Homo sapiens: one gene and its partners. The protein of the gene in region 2 interacts with the protein of the main gene of each other region in a biochemical or structural test. Each region holds a gene or a part of one and is shown on either strand. Other genes may lie near its edges. The genes, in order: RNF34, IKBKG, RAB11A, TCEANC, TCP11, TPT1 and PRKD3.

Region 1 (3,500 bases), on a different chromosome or scaffold from region 2:
TTCCCAATTATGTTTAAATGCAGAAACAGCAACAATGTGGAAACTTACATTCATCAAATGTTAGCATTTAAAATATACATGACTAATAAAGTGAACATTCAGAGGAGCCACTGCTCAGCATGTTCCATGTCGGCCACTTGTGGACACTGATCTCATCCAAAGAGGACAGAAGTTTCAAACATCTGAGCAGTTTAAGTTAAAAATAGGATGAAGGGGAAATAAGAGAACAGGATAAGTGTCCTCCCAAGACAGCAGTGGCTGATGCCCACATGGCGCAAACAGGCTGACTTCAATGAGTGTTCACGGGATGTGTGATAAAGCCCAGCTGAGCCCGGGAAGCTCACGTGTCCACAGGCAGACAGGCTCACGGCATGGACCAATGTTTCCACAACTCAGGATGGATCTTTCTGTCCCCACTTAGTAGTCAAAATAATGTTTTAAAATAGCTTCAGCCTTTGAACATAACTTTCCAGTCCCTTCTGTGCATTGAAATGTTGGGGGTCAAGTTTGGGGGTGACTGTCCTGGTGAGGGGAGCCTGTTTCAGGACTTGAACACGTGCACGGCTCGCACCACATACTGCCGGCAGATGGGACACTCACTCATGCGCTTGCCGCACTTGGTGCAGGTAACCATGTGCCCACACTCCAGTAGGACACAGTCGATGACGGCATCCATGCAGATGCGACACAGGCTGTCGTCTTCCTCATCCTGCAGCTGCAGCCGCTCGCCATCTGAAAGGCAACAGAGAGCTAAGGCCTCGGCTTCAGGCATGGCCAGTCAGCCAGCCACCCTCCCAGTCCGAAGCTGAGCAGCCACCTGCTGAATGACCCCTGCAGGCCCAATGCCACCCCAGTGTTGTACAAGAAATAATCCCAACTTCTCTGCACTTTGGTTCTCTCCACTAGAAATGGCAATGATAAAAGCTATACCTCAGGGTTTTGTAAAGAATAAAATGCTTGACGTACCCAACAAATGTTAGCTATGTATTTCTATTTTATATCTTTGTCTAATTCAAGACATCTGTGATAGGGATATATTACTTCTGTAACTAGAAAAAGAAACCCTCAGCTGGTCTTCTGTAGATGGGCTTTGGAGTCAGGATGCTATTGGAATTTAACTCAGTTGCCCCAGCTTTGTAGCCCTGGGAACACCACAGTCTCTGGAGCCTCATCTCAGTAGGAAAAGGAGCCTTAGTTCCCCCTTAGGAAAGTTAGGAATAATTGTGCATCCTTCCCTCCCTAGCCTTAGAATCATCTCAAGCCATCTGTGTTCCTGGCCCTGCTGAAGTCTAACTTGAAAGAGATGGGCCGTCCTGGCTCTTGGCCCACCTTTACATCTGAGAAAATCCAGTCTGTGAATAAGAAAGACGATGAATAAGTTAAAAAAAAGTTAACCCCAGCCTGAGATTTGGCCATAGGGCTATGGATTTGGGTGCTTCCCTTTCTACAGGTCAGAGGAGATCAAAGGGAATCATGAATAGTTGGAACAGAACAGGAATTCAAGCTTGAAAGGTCAGTAGTCTCTAGATTTAAGAGAAATGTTTTACTGCCATTCATGGGGAGAGATTCTTGTGATCTGGGGTCTTAGTTCATGGCCCACGACTACTGGTGTGGACCTGGGGAGAAAGGATCTATGGGATGAGATGGCAGATATGCCAATGGAGAAGGCACTAGGCAACTCAAGATGAAATCAGAGTGGGCCTTGGTCTCTCCTTCTGTGTGGAGGGTTCCTTCCCACTCTTTAGAACTTAGGAAAGCAGAGGAGCCAGTATCTTGTCAGGGATATGGGAACAATCTTGGTAGTGACTTGGAGCCAGTCAAGCTAGGAAAGATGCCAGCTGTGCTCAAAACAAAATGTGTGTTCCACCCAAGCCAGAGATTGAACTAGGGTTAGATTATGCAGTGAGTTAATGGAGAAAGACACTGGAAACCATGCTGTCATAATAACAACCATGTTATATCCTACGCCGCAAAGTACTTAAGGGTGGGAATGGCATTATCGTTGTGCACTGTACATAGTTGCTATTTACATTTATGAAGTCAACTGACTTCTCCCCTCACTGCCAGAAAACCATTTCCCAGCCAGCAGCCTACGACCTCTGAAAGCTCTGAGGATGAAGATTCCTGCATCTACCACTGTGACATCATCTTTGAAGTAGGATTGCCAAAATATTTTGTGCATATTCTGGGCATAAACCTGTTCATCAACAAATGCTGTATTATAACCAGCTTTTAAAGGACAAAACTCAAGATGATAAAAGTTAATGATGGGAGGGCTGTTTAAGCTAGATAGGAACATAAGATTTGTTAGTCTGAACACCACTGAGGGTCAGGCATGGTGGCCCACGCCTAATTCAGCACTAGTCTGGGCAACATAGTGAGACCCTGTCTCAATTTAAAAATATTAAGTACATATATATTTTTTTTACAATTAAAAAGAAAAAAATAAATACAACTGAATTATTTTTTCTTGTCCATAAATGTTCCGTGGCTTGATCGTGTTACCAGCTGAGGAAGAATTTCTGTGCCAAATTTCATCAATGTATAGTTGAGAAGTTTTTGTTCTGTTTTGTTTTGTTTTGAGACAGTCTTGCTCTGTCACCTAGGCTGGAGTGCAGTGGCATGACCACGGCTCCCTGCAGGCTCAAGCAATCCTCCCCCCTCAGCCTCCCAAGTAGCTGGGACCACAGGCTGGTGCCACCACACCAGGTTTTTTTGGTTTTTTTTTTTTTTTTTTTTTTTTTTTAGAGATGGGATCTCTCTATGTTGCCCAGGCTGGTCTCAAACTCCTGGGCTCAAGTGATCCTCCTGCCTCAGCCTCCCAAAGTCCTAGAATTACAGTTGTGAGCCACCAAGCCCAGCCTAGTTCAGAAGTTCTTAACCTCAGCTTTTTGTGACTTACACAGAAATCTACAGATAGTTGATGCTAAGAACTATGTAACATCTGGGCTATAGGGAATTTTCCCCCTACTGTTAGATTTAAAAGTTGAGAGAACCAAGGTACTGGCCGGCCAAAGGCATTAGTGAGAAAATAAGCATTTTTACAGAGACGAGGAATTTAATTAGGGTTGTAACAAATAGTTAATTATAGTAAGAAAAACCAAATTGAATAATTTTCTAACTCACTTGGCAGTGGTGGTCTCGCAGCCATAATGAACATCACATAATGAAGTTACTCCTTTCCAGATCTATAAACAGGCTCATGTAACTAACTGATACTCAGTAAAATGGTACACAGCTTTCTCAAAAATAAATTTGACTTAATTGTGACAAAAACAACCCAGTTTTTAAAAGCCTAAGGAAAAATACTACAGGGAAAAAATGAAAAGATAAACCTACAGGACTTTTGGTTTTCTTCATTCTCTTTGTATAACCGGTTTACTTTCTCTACCAGTTCCCATTTTTCACAACAGCCAGAATAGTTGACAAAATTCCGAGCCAGAATTTCCTTCAGCTGGCGCACGCTCATTCCTTCCACATCATCAAGGCTTGACAAGTCA
Region 2 (3,500 bases):
TCACAAACAGCTCAGAAAGGCAGGGGAACTGTTCTAGATTAAAGGAGACTGAAAAGGCACGCCAAGGACAGGAACCTGAGGTCCCAGATTGGATGCTGGTAGACGGGGGGGTTTGGGGGTATTTTTGTTGTCTTTCTGTTGCCCAGGCTGGTCTTGGAACTCCCGGGCTTAAGCCATCTACCCACTTTGGCCTCCCAAAGTGTTGGGATTACAGGCGTGAGCCACAGCACCTGGCCTAGAAGGGGTTTTAAAGGACAAGTCCCCTGATGACCTAGTGGCTAGGAAAAAAAAACTACAAAAAAGGCCACGTGTGGACACGCAGTGAAACGTGGTCTGGAGAGCAGATGGCATGACTGTATCAAAGACAAACCGGGTGTCATCATGGTCGCCTCTACCGTTAGCAAGGCTAAGGGACAGAATGGGCCCACAGCCACAGGCAGAATCTGAAGGAGTCCTCAGAAGGCAGAAAGAACCATGGACCCGACACTTCTCAGCCTTTCGGCTAAGATCAAGTGTAGAACCACAGACCCTGCGGTGCGGCCCCGCCCCCGCTGACTCACTTCTCCTCCGAGGCGGCCTGGCGCTCCATGCGGAGCGCGGCCTCCACGCTCTGGCCCTGCATGCGCAGCTGGTCCACCTGCACGCTGTGCTGCTGCTGCAGCGCCTCGCGCTCACTCTCCAGCTGCCGCGCCTGCTCGCTGGCCGCCCGGGCCCTGGCACGGGGAAAGAGCAGACTCAGGGAGGACGAACGGGGGGACGGCAGGGGCTATGCGCAGGGCGTGGGCGGGGGGTGGGGGTCGGCTCTGAACACCCTGTGACTGCGAGCTGATGCCAGGCGGCAGGGTGGAGGCACCGTCAACAGACACGAGGACAACTGCAGGGGGCCAGGTGGGAGCAGCAGGTGAGGAGCTTTGCTTAAGACGTGTTTGCTTCAATGCAGGGGCCCAGCAGGTGACCAAGTACAGATGGCAAGGAGACCTGGAAGCCAGGGGAAGGGGGTGGTCCGAGAAAAGGATGGGGTCGCCTGCATCCCGCAGTGCTGGGGCCAGGTGAGAGGAGCCCTCGGAACTGCCCGTGGAGTTCCACTGGGGGACTGCTGGGGGCCCCAGCAAAAGCAGTCTCAGTGGAGGGGGTCAGGAGAGACTGCTGTTCCAAAAATGAGAGACTGCCCACCTGGGCGTGCAAGCACTGAGCTCAATGCAGACCGGGCCTCGGCCCCATCCCTGCTGCTGCCCAGAGCTCTGCTGGAGTCCCAGACGACCTGCTCGGATGCTCAGTTCCCACACCTGCCCCCCTACAGCTCCCTTAACCTCCAGTTTCCAGGGTCTGGCCTCATCCCACCACACCAAGCCCTTCCACAGCCTCACTGCAGGGACAATGGTGGGTGCATCTGTCCAGGTCCTGGGTGGCCTCTGGCCACAGGCAGACACGGCCCTTCTCCAGTCACCCCAACTCTGCCTGGCAGGCCTGGCTGCTTGGCTCTCCCCTCCGCGCCTGCCTGCATACTGCCCCCACACCCTGCACGGGTTCCCTCTGCCCATCAGAGCCTGGGTCAAGCTCCCCTCCCCTCTGCCCTGCTGGCTGCCCCAAGTGCACCTTGACCGCCTACTGTGCTGGGATGGCTGGGGCCCCCCTGGCAGCTGATCCATCTGTCTGGAGGGCAGAAGCAGGACCGAATGAGAACCACAGAAACCTCCCTGCCCTTTGACCCAATGGTCCCACTCACAAGAACCAAGACCCCTTTGCAAAAGAGAGTAACCAGCAGGCCTGAGGCCACCGGCTGGCAAGGTTGGCCCTTGGCTGGTGAAGTTCCCTTGCCACAGTGACACTTTCTCTAGTGGTCAGGTCGGTCCCTGCACCTAGGCCATTTGTAGGAAGAACGTGGTTGACGTGAGCACCCGCTCTGCTGCTGGGAGTCGGGGATTTAGGTACCTGCCTGGCAGAGGGCGCTGACAGGACCTGCCCCCAGTAAACACCCAGGGCGCTGAGTCTCTAGCGGGCATCCCTGGGCAGGAACACGGCCCGTGTGGGAGGCGCTTCTCACTGTGCCGCTCGCAGGGCAGCGGGAGGCTGGGACAGGGCTTCTCCAACTCCCCCCACGGCTCCTGCCCTGGCGGCTCCTGCCCTGTGCCTTTTTCCCTGTCATCAACCTCAGCCACGAGGGCGACTGTGCGCCGGTCCCAGAAGTCCTTCCAGAGAACTAGACACTGTGGGTGTGGGCTCGGGGCCCCCAGAATGCCTCCTAAGGAAATAATCCAAACTCCATCAAAGGGTCACAGAGTGCGGAGAGCCGGCTGGGACCCAGGTCCCGGATGCCTGGCCCAGACCTCTCCCGACGTCTGCCCCGACGTCTTTACGCAGCCTGCCCCGGTCTATCCTCATCAAGGAGCACCCTGGAGGCCCCTAAACCCACCTCATTGCTTTTGGAAACCCTGGAAGGGGTCTCCGGAGCCGGCTCCCCCGACTCACCGACCCTCCAGAGCCTGGCATTCCTTAGTGGCAGCCTCCAAGCGACTCTGGCTCTCCTGCAGCTCCCCGAGCAAGGACGTCACCTGGGCTTTCACAGAGGCCTTGTCCTCAGCCATCTGCTGCAGGATAAAAAGCCACTTCCTGTCAGCACTGCTTTCTCCCCAGCGGCCCACTCCTGCCATCCGCAAGCCCGGGGCAACCCGCAAGCGGCTGAGGCCTGCGCGCCATGAGGCCTTTTTTCCTGCCCTCGGCACCCCCAAACCTGGGTGCCCTAGGGCCTCATGAGCCCAAGGGCCACCCAACCCTCCCCAGCTGCCCACCTTAACCCTCTGCCACAGGGTGACACACAGATGGGGCAAAAAGAGATCCCCAAAGAGACGAAGGAGCACAAAGCTGCCTTGAGGTTGTCAACGGCTTAGTCACTGCCCCGGCAAGCAGGCCTCGAGGGCTGAACCCGGTGGCCTTGCAGCTACAGCCCCAGCAGGGGATCTCTCTCCGTCTCTCTGAGACTTGGGACAAAAGGAGGCCAGACACGAATAGGGCAAAGTAAACACAGGCCCCAGTCCACACCCGGGGCCGCCAGGATGGGAGAGTTTGTGCAGATCAAGAGTGGACACTGAATTTTGTTAAACACTGGGAACTGCAGAACCTCTCGGCAGGCACACTGCACTCAAACCCCTGCCCGAAGACACCCGGCCACCACCTCGCGGGGCCTCTGGGAGCCTAAGGCCGCGCCCCTGGGACGCCCCAGCCCCCTTTTGAGTGAGTTCCCGTCTGGAAACGCTCAGGGCTGCCCAGAGCATGTACTGTCTGTTCCGGCCAACACCTGACCTCCCTTTCTGACAGCATTTACTACAAAGGGCTTACCCTGTCCCTTTGAGACATCTGTGTAGCACCCACAACCCAGGGGCTTTCCCGAGGGCCCCGCAGCCACTCCTTGGAAACGGAAACCTCAGGAGGCGCGGGGCCCAGTCTCCCAGTCTCCACGGGACGGAAGCATCCCAACCTTGGTAAGCACCGGCAGCTCCCAC
Region 3 (3,500 bases), on a different chromosome or scaffold from region 2:
ATGACGCGATCTCGGCTCATTGCAACCTCTGCTTCCTGGGTTCAAGCGATTTTCCTGCCTCAGTCTCCCGAGTAGCTGGGATTACAGGCATGGACCACCACACCCGGCTAATTTTGTATTTCTAGTAGAGACGGGGTTTCTCCATGTTGGTCAGGCTGGTCTCGAACTCCTGACCTCAGGTGATCCGCCCGCCTGGGCCTCCCAAAGTGCTGGGATTACTGGTGTGAGCCACCGTGCCTGGCCAGATTTCTACTTTTTTAAAGCTCTTACAGGATATGAGTCACTTTTTCTTTTTCTTTTTTAACTTCAATGCTGATTATTTAGCCAATTTCTTATTTATACAAGTATCCTACTTTAAAGTGAAGCAAGAATGATTTTATTTCAAAATGGCTTTATTGTACAGAGATTTATTCACTGAGATGGACTGCAGCTGTTTCTACTTAGAAGGTTTACCTAGCAAATGCAATAGTTGAGGGAATTGGAGTTAGTTTGTAACTAACCAGTTCAAAATAAAGGGATATTTTGATTAATAGGGGATGGAGTGGTCTAAATAGGAATGTAATGTGGGGCGAGCAGGACAATTATTCTAAATTATGTGTTTGTTCTTGAACAGTAACCTTTATTTAAGCCCAATAGTGAGACTTTTGGTGGGAGGGAATTAGTTTTATTTTATTTAAAGTTGACTTTTTATTTTTAAAACTTTAATTCCTTAAGTATTTACGAACAATGTGGTTAAGGCCCTGTGGGACATAAGTAAGCATCAATCATGATTTCTGTTTACAAATATTGTGTGGTAGACACCAATCCACAGTTAGATTTTCTGAAAATATCTGGATACATAGTCTATTGCTTAAGACATTTTCTTTTCAATCACATTGGAGGTCAGTAGTAATTAACCATCAGCTGATTGTCAGTAGAAATTATCATAGGAACTTTGCTGTCTTGCATCTTGGTAGTAGTTTTTCTTTCACAAGTTTTGGTTGAGCAACTCAGATTCTGCTGAATCTGGAAAAACTTGTCTAGACTTGAGCCTTATTGTATGCATTATATCTATATCTATATCTATATATATATATTTTTTGAGGCAGGGTCTCCCTCTGTTGCCCAGTCTGGAGTGCCATGGCACAGTCATAGCCCACTGCAGCCTCAAATTCCTGTGCTCAAGAAATCCTCCTGCCTCAGCCTCCCAAGTAGCTGCAACTACAAATGTGCTCCACCATGCCTGGCTATTTTTTTTTTTTTAAGACTATCCCACTTACAGAAATAAAATTTTCTTTTTTGTAGAGATAGGGTCTCCCTACGTTGCCCAGGCTGGTCTCAAACTCCTGGGCTCAAGGGATCCTCCCACCTTGGCCTCTCAGAGTGCTGAGATTACAGGCATGAGCCACTGTGTCCTGCCTTGAACGCATTGTATATTAAAAACTTTTGAGGAGGTTGGACTATGAATATAGTTGAAAGAATAGAAATGTCTCCAAATTTATGAAAACTAGAATGAAAATTACCAGTTATTCTCTCACGTGGTAACTTTTAGGGTTGAGGTACTGTCTTTGATGAATTATATTTTAGTCCAGTAAATTAGTTTGCAAGAGAAAGTATAAAACTAAATGTGGTTGAAGAGGCAGAAATTTTCAATGGATAATTAATATGTATATTCTGCTTTTATGCATTTAGCAGCTTGATATTCAGTATTAGGTATTTGCGATGATACTCAAATACAGCAGATGTCTAGTTGATAACTTTTTTTTTTTTTTTTGAGATGGAGTTTCACTCTTGTTGCCCAGGCTGGAGTGCAATGGCGCGATTTCAGCTTACTGCGATTTCAGCTTACTGCAACCTCCGCCTCCCGCTTCAAGCAATTCTCCTGCTTCGGCCTCCTGAGTAGCTGGGACTACGGGCATGCGCCACCACACCTGGCTAATTTTGTGTTTTTAGTAGAGATGAGGTTTCTCCATGTTGGTCAGGCTGGTCTCAAACTCCCGACCTCAGGTGATCCACCCTCCTTGGCCTTCCAAAGTGCTGGGATTACAGGTGTGAGCCACCACGCCCGGCCTAGTTGAGATAACTTTTTAAAACATTCATGAATTTTGAGTTATTTTCAGATTAGAGTGCTTTTTTTTTGTAGTGTTAACATTAATTGGTTACATTAAGAGAAAAGTTCCCTTGCTATCTTTATGATGGTATAAGGAGTTGAGATTGGTGAGATAATGAACATAATCATTAGTTAAAAGTGGAGGTCAAAAGGGAGGAAACCAAAACTTGAAAGTGCTGGAGTTGGCCGGGCATGGTGGCTCATACCTGTAATCCCAGTACTTTGGGAGGCCAAAGCGAGTGGATCTTTTGAGCCCTGGAGTTTGAGACCCAGCCTGGGCAACATGGCAAAACCCCATCTCTACAGAAAATACAAAAAATTAGCTGAGCGTGTTGGCATGTGCCTGTAGTTCCAGCTACTAGGGAGGCTGAGGTGGGAGGATCCTCTGAGCCTGGGAGGTCTAGGCTGCAGTGGGCTCTGCTTGTGCCGTGGCACTCCAGCCTGGGCGACAGTGAGACCCTGTCTCAAAAAAAGAAAGAAAGAAAGAAAGTGCTGGAAGTTTTTTTTTTGAGACAAGTTCTGGCTCTACTCCCCCGGCTAGAGTACAGTGGTGCACAGTCCAGGCTCACCACAACCTCTGCCTCCCAGGCTCAAGCCATTTGCCCACCTCAGCCTCCTGAGTAGTTGGGACTACAGGCATGCACCACCGTGCCTGTCTAATTTTTTTGTTTGTATTTATTCATGTATTTTTTGTGTATTTTTTTGTATTTAAATTTTTTTTTTTGTATAAGTGATTCAAAGGCCATTTCCTTAGCAAACATCCAGCCTTTTGTACTAAGAGGCAACAGTGAATGTATCCTATTAATAATAGACTATTAACTGAAACTGAGATTTGACTTCATATCCAGAATGGTGGACCTTGGAAACTAGTATATCAACTAACCATCCTATAAAATTGAAAGTGCATTGCTTTTGTACATCACTTTAATAACTTTGACATTTTCTTCTGATATCAAATAAAAGCATGTATGTGTTTGCCACAGCATCTTTGACACCCTCTAGTTGACTCTCTAGTTAGAAATAACCATTCTTTGTGCTGCATTGGATTCACTGCCTCCTGAATGATTTCTTGCTGAATCAGCTGACTGAGAAAGCCAGAAAGATATGCATTTGATAATGTACTCTGTCCAAGACTGTCCAGAGGCTAGCTTATATCCACTCCTGTGGCAAGGAGGGAATGTATAATGGACTCTCTTTGCCCTCTGACCAGAATGCAGTGAGCTCTCAGTTTTTACCATTCTTTCCACTCGTACCACCATCCCAGTCTCTTTAGTAAGGAATGGTCTTACTCCTTGGCCTTATTTTTGTATGTTTGATTTTCTAGTCCTGATGTCTAAATCAATTAGCTAGTTTAGATAAGAAGAAGTCTTAGTAGTCAAAAGTAGGAACGAATGTAATGTTTCCTGAAATG
Region 4 (3,500 bases), about 140 Mb from region 2:
GTAAAAACATGCTCTTCAATTTCTCTTGCAAAGTTTTGCCACAAATCAGCTTTGGGTTGATCTGTGGAAGAACTAGTTAAAGCTGCGTAAAGAAGCTCTATGCATTTAGTTCTCATGGGTGTTGTGGGATCCAGCAACTCACTCGATCTCTTGCCAGTGGATTCAGGGTCACCATCCCCAAAATGCTCTTCCTTAGGTTTCAATTGAATGGCTCTATTTTCAGGCACAATCATTTCACTGAGTTTTGCAACGTCTTGGGAAGACAGAGAATTCGAGCTGCAGATGCCCAGTGTCTCATTCTGACTTGGGTCATGAGAAGGTCCTGAATTTTCTTCTTTATTACCCCTCACAGGAAATAATTTAGGGCTGTTCCTCGCTTTGGAGTGAGTCTGCTTATAAACAGCTTTCCACTTTGATAGCAAACACTTGGCTTTCTTTTTCAAAGCCACAGAGGGGCAGTTTTTGAGGACTCTGTACACAGCTCTGACCACATCTGTCTCCTGGAGATGCTCCTTAGTCACATAAATTGTTTCTAGCTCAGTAAGGTGGTTGCCAAGATCCTCAAAATTCCTTTTGGACATCAGTTGCTCAATAAGAGAAGCTCTGGCAGCTATCTGGTTCTTGTCAGACATCTTTACAGCTGCAAAGAAAAAAGAGGTTTCAGTTTTCTTAAGTTTGCCGTTGCTAGTCGCAGCTTCTGGATACTAAAATAGCACTTTCTGTCAGTTACCTAGGCAATGTTTTCCGAAAGAGTCATGTAATACAAATGTATGCGACACGCTAGAAAATGGAATCTTTAAGGTGACGGTATGGTTTACTCTCAAGAGTTTAATTCCTACGAGTGAAAAACAAACAAACAGCATTGCAGAGCCTCTACATAACATCTGCTTAAGAGGCTTGCCGGAGGATCTGCTATAGCTTTTCCACCTCCAATTTTACAAATCAATGATCTTTCTAGATTAGTCAATCCATTTGGGCGGAATCCGGTGGTCATGTTGGAGGTGAAATCATGCCGGTGTCAGCATCAATATGGCAATGCTGAACAGTGCTAGACAATTTTTCCCCAGAGTCAGCTATATAACTGAACTACTTGCTCATTTCATAATCTTTAAAGTGGTACTCTTCTGAAAATAAAAGAGAAACAAGACAGAAAGGGTTTGCTAATGTCTCAAGCAATCTAAGGAAAATGTGAGACAGCACAGGTTGAAAAGCAGCTAGAGATACGTCTGCGGGTCCCAAAAGCCAACAGGCTACACTGTGCTGCCTTAGGAGTCTTCTGAACAAGGGAAAGGTTCAGACTCAATGATCCAGATGATTTATGACTTTAGACTAACTGGTTCTTACATTTTGGTTTTGTTAATTTTTAAAAAATTTTTAAGTGTAAAGAGTTGCTCAATGATTATGTCTGTGTGAATTTCATCCTAGGCAGGCAAATGTTTACTTTTATCTATGCAGTCTATTTTTTCCCTCCACATAATGTACATAATCTTGTCTATATAATACCCTTGGATCTATATTTATCTGTCTGGTCTAAATGTGAACATAAGCATCTTGATGGCAGGGACTGTGTCTTTTCAAAAATCCATGGGCTCTGTTTTATAGCACTTGATATTAAATAATCACCACCGAACATACACAGGCTAAGAACACTGAAGTGTTTAGAGAGAGAATTCACGCAGTCTTCCCAGACACCATATGACAAGTGACATAAAACATAATGACCTTTTAGTAATTCTACTTCCATAAATTTACTTTAAGGAAATGAGAGATGTGGAGACTGCATATGTAAGAATTTTCTTCTAAGGAGAAATTAGAAGGCCCTCAAATGGTTAAATGGAGAATGGTTAAAAATATGGCACACTCCTAGGATACAGTAATATAACCATTTAAAAATCATGTATTTAGATAATATTTAACGACATGGAAAAATGGTCATAAAGTTAGGTGAAAAACAATCAAGATGTAAAACTATATAAAAGACTAAACAGTTAACATATGGGCCGGGCATGGTGACTCACCCTGTAATCCCAGCACTTTGGGAGGCCGAGGCAGGCAGATCACGAGGTCAGGAGATCGAGACCATCCTGGCTAACATGGTGAAACCCCATCTCTACTAAAAATACAAAAAATTAGCCGGGTGTGGTGGCGGGCACCTGTAGTCCTAGCTACTTGGGAGGCTGAAGCAGGAGAATGGCATGAACCTGGAAGGCGGAGTTTGCAGTGAGCCAAGATCGTGCCACTGCACTCCAGCCTGGGCAACACAGCAAGACTCTGTCTAAAAAAAAATAATAATAAATAAATGAATAAACCAGTTATCATATGACCCAGCAGATCCAAGAGAAATGAAAACATATGTCCACACAAAAACTTGTATACAAATGTTCATAGCAGTATTATTCACAATAGCCAAAAATGGGAAATAATCGAAATGTCCATCAACTGATGAATGGATAAATAAAATGTGATTTATCCACACAACAGAATATTATTCTGCCATGAAAAGGAATGAAGTATTGATACAGTTACAACATGGATGAACCTTGAAAACATTATGCTGAGCAGAAGCAGCCAGACAGAAAAGTCCACATATTGTATGATTTTATTTACATGAAATGTCCAAAACAGGCAAATCTATAGAGACAGAAAATAGATCAGTTGTTGACTAGGTAGGGTAGGGCAGAAGGGCAGTGGGGTGAAGGAGGAGGAGCAGCTGATAAAGTTCAGGGATTTTCTTGGGAGGTGGTGGCACACATAAATCTTCTCAAGATTTATTTGTGGTGATGGGTTATACAACTGAGTATACTAAAAAACACTGAATTGTACACTTTAGGTGAACTGTATGGTGCGTGAATTACATCTGAATAAAGGTGTTATTTAAAAATAGAATTTGATCCAAATTTTATTTAAGAATTACATGTGAAAAGACTGAAAAGAGATACACAAAATTTTAAAGAGGGGCATTTTCTGAATGGTAAGATTTTAGGTAATTTTCATTTGTTATTTTCCTCTTCTGTATTTTCTGTGATGAGCATGTATTGCTTTCATAATCAGAAAAGTTATTGGTCTAACGCAATTTCATGATAAACTATATGCACTTAAGATATACCTACTGAAAAATGGTATGAGCAATGAATCAATCACCTTCTACCCACCTCCCCTCTGGAACGAGAATGTACATAACACTACTGAACTGTATACTTAAAAAGGCTTAAGACAGGCTGGGCGTGGTGGCTCACACCTGCAATCCCAGCACTTTGGGAGGCCAAGGTGGGTGGATCATGAGGTCAAGAGATCGAGTCTATCCTGGCCAACATGGTGAAACCTTGTCTCCACCAAAAATACAAAAAGTTAGCTGGATGTAGTGGCGCATACCTGTAGTCCCAGCTACTCGGAAGGCCGAGGCAGGAGAATTGCTTGAACCCGGGAGGCAGAGTTTGCGGTGAGCCGAGATCATGCCACTGCACTCCAACCTGGCGACAGAGCGAGACTCTGTCAAAAAA
Region 5 (3,500 bases), on a different chromosome or scaffold from region 2:
GGGTGCTGTACAGAATGTCTTGCAAGCACCAATAAGGGAACCACACATGGACCTTTAGGAATTGGGAGCAAATCTATTCCTTCTTTAATGATAATTATTCACCTTTTGAGAAACAACTTCTTGGGCCTTGGTAGAAAGTAAACACCTTACTATAGAACACTGGGTAACCATGTGGCCTAAGCTTCCCATCAGGAATTAGGTATTGTCTAACTTACGTAGCTACAAGACTGGACATGCACAGCAGCAATCTATTATCAAATGAAAATGGCTTATAAGAGACCAAGCATATACTGGTAATAAGAACAGATACACAGACCAAAAGAATAGAGAGCTGATAAATAAAACCTGGATATATAAGGTCAAATGATTTTCAACAACAATGCCAAGAACCAATGGGGAAAGGACAGTCTTTTCAACAAATGGTGCTGGGAAAACAGGATATTCACATGCAAAAGAACAAAGTTGGACCTTTACCTTACCCCCATATAAAAATATTAATTCAGTTGTGCACATGTACCCTAAAACTTAAAGTATAATAAAAAATATATATATATATTAATTCAAAATGGTAGTGGCTCACGTCTGTAATCCCAGCACTTTGGGAGGTCGAGGCAGGCGGATCACCTGAGGTCAGGAGTTTGAGACCAGCCTGAGCAAAATGGTGAAACCCCATCTCTACTAAAAATACAAAAAATTAGCCGGGCGTGATAGTGCACACTTGTAATCCAGCTACTACTTGGGAGGCTGAGGTGGGAGAATAGCTTGAACCAGGGAGGCAGAGATTGCAGTGGCCAAGATCGCACCACTGCACTACAGCCTGGGTGACAGAGCAAGACTCTGTCTCAAAAAAAAAAAAAAAAGAAAGAAAAAAGAAAAAAAGGACCTAAACATAAGAGCTAAAACTACAAAACTCTTTGGAGAAAACATAGGTGTAAATATTCATGATCTAGGATTTGGCAGGATTTGACACCAAAAGCATAAAATTCAATAAAAGACAATCCAATTTAAAAATGGACAAAGTACCTGAGTAAACATTTCTTTGAAGAAGATGTACAAATAGCCAACAAACACACGAACAGATGCTCAATATCACTAGCCATTAAGAGAAATGCAAGTCAATGAGATACCACTTCACACCCATTAGAATGGCCATTACCAAAAATGGAAAACAGCAAATGCTGGCTAGGATGTGGAGAAATTGGAACCCTGGTACATTGCTGGTAGGAATATAAAATGGTGTGGCTACAACAGAAAACAGTTTGGCAGTTCCTCAAAAAGTTAAACATAGAATTACCATAGGATCCAACAATTCCAACTTTAGGTATATACCCAGAAAAATTAAAAGCAGGGACTCAAATATATACTTGTACACAAGGTTTACAGCAGCATTATTTACAATAGCCAAAAGGCATAAAGAACCTAAACGTCCATCAACAGATGTATGAACAAAATGTATTCTATCCATATAATAAGAATATTATTCAGCCATAAAAAGGAATTACATTCTGATATATGCTACAATATGGATGGACCTTTAAAACATTACACTAAGTTAAACAAGTCCAAAACTAAAAGGACAAATATTGTATTCCATTTATAAGTACCTAGAGTAGTCAAATTCATAGAGACAGAAAGTACAGGTGCTAGTGGGAGAGGGGAAAGGGAAATTATTGTTTAATGAGTACAAAATTTCTGTTAGGGAAGATTCAAAGGTTCTGGAAATGGATAGTGGTGATGGTTATATTGTAAATATACTTAATGCCAGTGAACTGTAACACTAAAAAATAGTAAATTTTGTTATGAATATTTTGCCACAACAAAAACAAATCCTAAAAAAAATTAAATAAATTTTTTAAAGCCCCCAATATGGCCCATTCCCCAGGGAGGATCAGTCAGCCATCTTATGGCAGATGATTTCACTGGACCTCTAACAGTTTAGAGAGGGCGAGATTCATCCTTACTGGGATAGACACATATTCTGGATATGGAGTTGTCTTCCCTGTTTGCCATGCTTCTGTCAGTACCAGCATCCAGATAATCACAGAATGCCTTATCAGCTGTCCTGGGTCTTTGCCTACTCCATTGCATTGCATCTGCTCAAGGAACTCATTTCACAGCAAAGGAAATGCAGTGAATTCATACCTACTAAATTAACTGGTCTGACCAAAAAGCTTTCACTGAGAATCAGCTGGCCCTAACTAAAAAGTAGAATGGCTTATTTTAGACTCAATTACAGCATTAGGTGAGCAACAATACCTGAAAGGAAGGGAATTGGTCTTACAGGATGCAATATATGCTTTGAATCAAAGACTTTTTTTTTTTTTTTTTTTTTTTTTTGAGACAGGGTTTTGCTCTGTTGCCCAGGTTGGGGCACAGTGACACAATCATGGCTCACTGCAACCTGTGCCTCTCAGGCTCCAGCAATCCTTCCGTGTCAGTCTCCTGAGTAGCTGGGAATAGAGGCATGTACCACCACACCCAGTTAATTTTTCTATTTTTTGTAGAGATGGGTTTCACCACATTACCCAAGCTGGCCTCAAATTCCTAGACTCAAGCATTCTGCCCACCTGAGCCTCCCAGAGTGTTGAGATTACAGGTGTGAGCCACTGTGCCTGGCTTCAAAGACCATTCTATGGTGCTGTCCCCTAATGCCAGAATACATGGGTCCAGGAATCAAGCAGTAGAAGTAGGACTGCTTCCTCTTACTAGCACACCTGATAACCCACTTGCAGGATTTTTGTTTCCCATCCTGCCAACTTTGAGGTCTGCTGATTTGTGTGAAATACTTGCATTGGTTCCAATGAAACAGAAGATGAAACTGACCATTGGGGGCTCCTTATACCACTGAACCAAAAGGGTAAAAAAAGGAGTTACTGTACTGGATGCCGTACTTGCTCCTGAGTACCAATGAGAAATTGGATTGTGGCCACACAATGGGGGTAAGAAAGACCATGCCTGAAACTCAGGAGATTCTCTGAGTTGCCTCTTAGTACTTCCAAGCTCAATATTAAAGGTTAATGGAAAACCACAACAAACAAAGCAAAATGTCTCAGACTCTTTGGCAATGAAGGTTTGGGTCACTGCACCAGATAAAGAACCCCAACTAGCTGAAGTTCTGGCCAAGGACAAGGGAAATATGGAATGAATGAATCGTGGAAGAAGGAAGCCATAGATAACAACTATAGCCTTGTGACCAGTTATGGAAACAAGGACTATAAATTTTATCTTTGCTTATTATATGTATGTTTATTTATATATGCCAACATTTTGTTCTTCCTCTTTCTTTCCATTGTTATTTTATATACAAGTTGTTAGAAGTTAAATTTTATGATTTAGCCTTTAGGTAACACAATAGTCAGTGAAACTGGCTGAATTTGAGGAGCGGCCAGTGATGGATACAATAACTATTTGGGCCATGTCTCCTCATTTTGGGGGAGGATAAATAATAAATAGCTATCTGTCTTGTAAGAGTTCTTTTCAGGAATTCAAATGTGTATAGA
Region 6 (2,606 bases), on a different chromosome or scaffold from region 2:
AAAGGCCCTGTAGATGAGACTCACACTTTTCATTACAATGTCAAATCAGAACGCTAAGCCAGGTGCAATGCCTCACACCTGTAATCCCAACACTTTAGAAGGCCAAAGCTTGAGATCACTTGAGGCCAGAGTTTTCAGACCAGCCTGGGCCACATGGCATGACCCCATCCCTACAAAAAATCTATCAGAATGCTTAAAATTGCTATTAAGTTCCCAATACGTATTTAGGTTTGTTTCCAATCACGGGGTGCTGGGGGTTAACATTAGTATCTGCCTCAGGTTTTGGACACTATGGACAGTCTGGAATTTGACACTAGGGCAAACTCCAGATTGCTCAAACCACTACATTCACATGTTCAAGCAGACCAGAGTCACTGGCCTGCTTTTAATCTTTCTTTTACAAGTGTAATCAACCAGGTAAGGCTGATAGACTATTTCCCAAAACTCACGTTTTGAAAATTCCCCTCCCAGGCTAGGCCTGCACTTTGGGAGGCTGAGGTGGGCAGATCTCCTTGAGCCCAGGAGTTGAGACCACCCTGGGCAACTAAGCGATACTCGGTCTCTACAAAAATTAGCTGGGCATAGGGGTGCATGCCTGCAGTCCCAGCAACTAGTGAGACTGAGGTGGGAAAATGGCTTGAGCACAGGATGCAGAGAATGCAGTGAGTTGCTTGTGCCACTGCACTACAAGCCTGGGTGACCGACCTGCCTCAAAAACTCTTCCCGCTTTTTTTCCTCCTGTATTCCTCTATTCAATCTCAGCTGCCACAATTAGACAGACGGAAAGCGCAAGGACATGTTCTTCTTGCATCTGTGGTGGAAACCATAGCAGCAGATAGCAACTGCTCCAGGTCTGTCAAATAGATGCATTTTCTTATTCAGACACCCCATCTTTTCAGATACAATATAGAGAACATTTTTACCCCTTTGCCCACCAGCCAGCCCACATTCTGTGTACCTTCATCTTTTAAATCAGGGGCTGGCAAACTTGCAGGCTCTAGTCTGTTAGACACAACTCTGCTCATGCACTGACAACAGCCACAGTCAATCCATAAATGAATAAGCATAGCCACGTTCCAATAAAACTGGACTCGAACTTAAATTCCATATCCCACAAGGTATTCTTTTCCCCTCAACCATTTAAAAAGGCAACCAACCACCTTAAAGTGTACAAAACAGGTGGTCAGATAGGCTAGTTTGCCAGTCCCTGTTCTAGTTACCAGGGAGTTTAATTAACATTCATCCCAAAAGACTTCGCTCTCTTTATGTGAAATAAGCTGAGACAAAGTTGCTTCCACTGAATGAGTCTCTTTTTATTCTCTTGGTAATCTCTTCCAGTTAACTACTTCCGTTGTAGGTGATGAAATGGGTAAGGCTCCACACTTCAGATGTTGGCACTGCTATGAGCATGGTCTTTCCCTTTATTGCAACTCAAAATCAGAACCTTTGATTCTTTTTTATATTCCAGTCCCAGAAGTAGTCTCCACTGTAGAAGTTAATTGATGAGTAGTAGCCTACAATCAGGCTCTAGCTTCTCCAGGAACACTACAGGATCAATTTAGTTTAAATATGCATTAAACTAAAAGGCATTCTCTCAAATGAGTTTAAATGCATTTTATTTTTAGACAACCTACATGACATGTTTTTCTTAAAAACAATGCCTCCACTCCAAATAAATCACAGTCAAAATAAATGAAGAGCTCAAGATGACATCAGTCCCATTTGTCTTAAGTCCTGGTGTTGTGTGGATGACAAGCAGAAGCCAGTTATGATGACAGGTGATAGATCCAAAATAATTGCCACATTTGTTACTGTAAAAGCAAAAACTACATTAATATTTTTCAAACATTACACTGCAAAAGTTACATTACCATTAACATGCAGCCTACATTTCCAGGCTAAAGATGTATTCCCCAATTCAATCTGGGCCGCCACAAAGACAGACAGAAAGCGCAGGGATTTCTTTCTTTTGCATCCTAGTGCAAACCAAAAGAACAACAGTAAATTGTTCAAGGTCTATCAGTGGATGCAGAACACCCTTACCAAATCAGCGGTAGCTCATTTTTCAGAAGGCTGTGGCATGTACCACCCACACCCTGCTCTACCAACAAAAACCTCAGATACTGTCTGAATAACCCCTTTGGTAAGTCATCTTATACTGTTCTAAGTAATTTCTGTCTACTGTTGACTCTAATCTTGTTCAGTATAGCTTTATGTTTTTCTTCTTCCTTATACAGAAGCCTATGAAAACTAGGATAATGAATGCCTTTGTTTCTGTACAGCTTCCAGCAGTTCCTTCCATAGAAGACACCAAGTTATTTATTATTAGTAAAACAATTTGCATACCAGTTCAGCAGTCAGCTCTATTTACTAAGCTAGTACTGCACTAGGCTTTTCAATGATCAGCTGCCCATTATCAGTAAACCAAAGTGAAAACCACTGATACTGATCCATACGTATACAGCAAAATATGATTATGAAGTGAAAGTGAGGCCATATCTAGAGGAAGATCAATGGTGTTCTCTGATCTCCTTCAGCATTTAAACTCTACTGTATTTTTTTGAGACAGCACCTCACTCTGTCACCCAGGATAGAGTGCAGTGGTG
Region 7 (3,500 bases), on a different chromosome or scaffold from region 2:
GACTAAGGACAACAGATAGGTGTTTTCACTTGGTAAATATAACTCAAATTGTCTTTTCAAATAAAAAGATATATTAAAAATCGTTCAGCTTTTAAAGTAGTAATCATATTCTTTTTATGTTTATGTGGTTAAAAGTGATTCCCTATCATTTTGAGGTCGAAAGGGTTGCCTGATAGTTGGTGCAATGTTTTAAATAAACTGCTTCCATATATTATCTCATTTGATCTTCAAAATAGTAGACAAAAGATGCACACTCCTACTGGTAACATTAAAACTCCCACTTTCTGACCTCTATTTTAGTGATCCACAGTGTTCCAATGAGAAGCAAAGGGAAAATAATGTGATTTACTTGATACGCTTTTTATGCTCAAGTGTTAGCCATGGCTCCACTTCTTTAATCAGTTGCCAAACTTCCAAGTCATCTTTACCTTATCAAGATGTTAGCTGAAATCTGGCATTTAACAACAAAAAAAGAGTTTGTATTTCTTCAGGCTCAGTATTCGTACTCTTCAAAGACACTGAAATCGAGAAGCAGCCAGATTCAGTAATGATTTTGAGCAAATATCATTCATAAAAATATGTGTCAGAGTCCACCATCCCAGAAATAGCAGCATTTGATAACTTCACTTCGTTTTCTAGGCACTGTTTGTACCACTGTTTTCTACAGCTTAAATCTTTTTCCTCTCAATTTATATTAATGCTTTTGCTAAAGACATTTTTTAAGTCAGAGCATTTCCTCCAGAAAGTACCTGGCATTTGCTTGTTCAGCATGGATGTGGTCATTAATCCCCCAGATTTGAGCCTCTAGAAAAATCTGGGCAGCAAGATAAGTGTTCTGAGTTCTGCCAAGCTCATCAACTTCTAGAACTCTCTTTTGAGAGGATGTGGTAGTGACTATGGCTCCCTTTACATATAACTGTTTTCAAATCTAAACATCTAACTAGAAATAATTTGTTCCACAGTGATAGAAAAGTGTTGCTGTTACTCACTGGGGCAGTCTCCAGCATTATTCCACTGGTGTCCCCATTTAAAATTACCTTTAATACACCTCAGTTTTATTTACTTGCCAGTTTATAACATCCTTAGGAAAAGAGATTCTAGGATTAAGCAAAACAAGGGATGTTTTTAAATACTGTAACTTTTTTTTTTTTTTTTTTTTTTTCTTTTGAGACAGAGTCTTCACTCTGTCGCCCAGGCTGGATTGCAGCGGCGTAATCTCGACTCACTGCAAGCTCTGCCTCCTGGGTTCACGCCATTCTCCTGCTTCAGCCTCCCAAGTAGCTGGGACTACAGGCACCCGCCACCACGCCAGGCTAATTTTTTTGTATCTTCAGTAGAGACGGGGTTTCACCGCATTAGCCAGGATGGTCTCAATCTCCTGACCTCGTGATCCGCCCGCCTCGGCCTCCCAAAGTGCTGGGATTACAGGTGTGAGCCACCACACCTGGCTAATACTGTAACTTATTTTTCCTTCAGCAAACATTGAGTACCTTTATGTGTCCAGGCACTGTGAGGCCACTAAGGATTCAGAAATGAAACAATTCCTGCTCACAGATGATGGAAGAGTGATCTTACAAGACAAATGATAGAAAGCAGCATACTCTATTTCATAAGAAATCAGAACACTTATAACACCAGTCTGGTATTTGGTATTCTGGAAGCTAGAACTTTTGAAATATGTACTAGGAAAGCTCTTCATACTGTGTCAGTCAGGATCACAGGGCTATAAATGTGTCTGCCTTTTGAGAAAAGGATATTTTACAATTTCCTTATCTGTGATTAATATTCATAATCAGTAGAGCTGGCAAGTATGTTGAAATGATACATACAGTGTTATATTTAGGGACAGGTAGTTACATATATAACACTATAATACAAAATTAACATCATCCTTCAATTTCCAGGTGAAGCTGTGTGACTTTGGATTTGCACGCATCATTGGTGAAAAGTCATTCAGGAGATCTGTGGTAGGAACTCCAGCATACTTAGCCCCTGAAGTTCTCCGGAGCAAAGGTTACAACCGTTCCCTAGATATGTGGTCAGTGGGAGTTATCATCTATGTGAGCCTCAGTGGCACATTTCCTTTTAATGAGGATGAAGATATAAATGACCAAATCCAAAATGCTGCATTTATGTACCCACCAAATCCATGGAGAGAAATTTCTGGTGAAGGTAAAAAAAAAAAAAAAAAAAAAAAAAAAAAAATTTTGGCTATGTGTTTTAAGCCTAAACATCTTTCTCATCCCAAATCAGTCTGTCTCTTGCAACTTATCTTTTTAGTACATCTCCCATTCATCTTCCAAATTCAACTAGTTACCAGTTTTTTGAGCACTCTTCTTTTTATACTTTTATCTGTGTCTTCTGTATAGTTCCCAGGCATAGCACTTACATAGGCCCCAGTGGCCTCATTGTCAAACCACTAAAATATCTTTTTAACTGTCTTACCTGTTAAACTCTTTTCTGGTCCTTCCTAGTCACTACTGCCAAATCTATCTTCAGGAAACATTACTTTCATTTATGGTGCTCCCAAACACTTCTCTTTAACCACCTTACAGGCATAGTTATCTGTGATATGGTCCATGCTTACCTTCTAGCCTCATCTCCCACTACTCCCTACACAAACCTAGTTGTTTACTCTTCTGAACTGTTTTCTGCAATTTGCTTGGGACTGTTTTTCCCTTGTCTACAATCCTTCCTATTAAAATTCGAGGACCCCTTAATTTGTGGCTCATCTATAAAGTTCCCTGACTACTCCTCTACACTGCAGAATTTACTTAGGCTAAAAAACATTTGGGCTTTTTTATTATCTTTTTTTATTTTTATTGAGACGGGGTCTCCCTCTGTCACCCAGGCTGAAGTGTGCACAAACACAGCTCACTGCAGCCTCGACTTCCTGGGCTCAAGTGATCCTCCCACCTCAGCCTCCTGACTAGGTGGGATGATGGGTATGCACCATGGGCCACCCACACCTGGCTAATTTTTAAATTTTTTGTAGAGATGGGGTCCCACTATGTTGCCCAGGCTGGTGTCAAACTCTTGCACTCAATTGATCTTCCCAACTTGACCTCCCAAAGTGCTGGGATTACAGGCATGAGCCACTGCACCCAGCCCCATTTTTTTCTTAAGTATTCATTCTTTTCATAATTGACTTTTCTAATCTTCAGAACAAGACTGTGAGCTCCGTGAATGAATACCTAGCTCCGGTTCCTTATACCTAGAATGAACTTTATAATCACCAGACACACTGCAGTTTGTTTTCCTCTCTCCTGTGGACCTCTGCTGGGAAGCTGCATACATCTCTTTTTCCTGCCTAGTGAAGGCTTTTGAATTTGCAACTCCTGGTTCTGTACCCGTCAAGAATAAGTTGGCTGGCCCTCTTTAGTCTGCTGATACTGATAGGAAGGACAAGTACACTACTTAAAACATTATTTAACTGCCCCATAGAAGTTAATAGAACCAGTGCTGGGGAATACCCCCATCTGGATTTAACCAGCCCATGT

Evidence for each region.
Region 1: the proteins of IKBKG (region 2) and RNF34 form a complex in vitro, tested with the Homo sapiens proteins (one study listed by BioGRID).
Region 3: the proteins of IKBKG (region 2) and RAB11A are reported together in a solved structure, tested with the Homo sapiens proteins (2 studies listed by BioGRID, with this or other methods).
Region 4: the proteins of IKBKG (region 2) and TCEANC form a complex in vitro, tested with the Homo sapiens proteins (one study listed by BioGRID and IntAct).
Region 5: the proteins of IKBKG (region 2) and TCP11 form a complex in vitro, tested with the Homo sapiens proteins (one study listed by BioGRID and IntAct).
Region 6: the proteins of IKBKG (region 2) and TPT1 form a complex in vitro, tested with the Homo sapiens proteins (one study listed by BioGRID and IntAct).
Region 7: the proteins of IKBKG (region 2) and PRKD3 form a complex in vitro, tested with the Homo sapiens proteins (one study listed by BioGRID and IntAct).

The regions. Positions count from the first base shown.
Region 1 is NC_000012.12:121,420,618-121,424,117, reverse strand, and holds part of RNF34 (E3 ubiquitin-protein ligase RNF34), read right to left. Parts: coding exon 3,340-3,500; exon of another isoform or gene 3,127-3,339; intron 733-3,126; coding exon 542-732; 3' UTR 1-541. UniProt on the Homo sapiens protein: E3 ubiquitin-protein ligase that regulates several biological processes through the ubiquitin-mediated proteasomal degradation of various target proteins.
Region 2 is NC_000023.11:154,557,620-154,561,119, reverse strand, and holds part of IKBKG (NF-kappa-B essential modulator), read right to left. Parts: intron 2,589-3,500; coding exon 2,470-2,588; intron 714-2,469; coding exon 561-713; intron 1-560. UniProt on the Homo sapiens protein: Regulatory subunit of the IKK core complex which phosphorylates inhibitors of NF-kappa-B thus leading to the dissociation of the inhibitor/NF-kappa-B complex and ultimately the degradation of the inhibitor.
Region 3 is NC_000015.10:65,872,491-65,875,990, forward strand, and holds part of RAB11A (ras-related protein Rab-11A), read left to right. Parts: intron 1-3,500. UniProt on the Homo sapiens protein: The small GTPases Rab are key regulators of intracellular membrane trafficking, from the formation of transport vesicles to their fusion with membranes.
Region 4 is NC_000023.11:13,659,641-13,663,140, reverse strand, and holds part of TCEANC (transcription elongation factor A N-terminal and central domain-containing protein), read right to left. Parts: intron 3,490-3,500; 5' UTR 3,455-3,489; coding exon of another isoform or gene 3,373-3,454; intron 2,111-3,372; 5' UTR 2,019-2,110; intron 641-2,018; coding exon of another isoform or gene 633-640; coding exon 1-632.
Region 5 is NC_000006.12:35,124,340-35,127,839, forward strand, and holds part of TCP11 (T-complex protein 11 homolog), read right to left. Parts: intron 1-3,500. UniProt on the Homo sapiens protein: Plays a role in the process of sperm capacitation and acrosome reactions. Probable receptor for the putative fertilization-promoting peptide (FPP) at the sperm membrane that may modulate the activity of the adenylyl cyclase cAMP pathway.
Region 6 is NC_000013.11:45,335,578-45,338,183, forward strand, and holds part of TPT1 (translationally-controlled tumor protein), read right to left. Parts: intron 2,033-2,606; exon of another isoform or gene 1,977-2,032; coding exon of another isoform or gene 1,899-1,976; exon of another isoform or gene 1,812-1,898; coding exon 1,809-1,811; 3' UTR 1-1,808. UniProt on the Homo sapiens protein: Involved in calcium binding and microtubule stabilization. Acts as a negative regulator of TSC22D1-mediated apoptosis, via interaction with and destabilization of TSC22D1 protein.
Region 7 is NC_000002.12:37,255,334-37,258,833, reverse strand, and holds part of PRKD3 (serine/threonine-protein kinase D3), read left to right. Parts: exon of another isoform or gene 1-518; intron 519-1,904; coding exon 1,905-2,172; intron 2,173-2,368; exon of another isoform or gene 2,369-3,500. UniProt on the Homo sapiens protein: Converts transient diacylglycerol (DAG) signals into prolonged physiological effects, downstream of PKC. Involved in resistance to oxidative stress.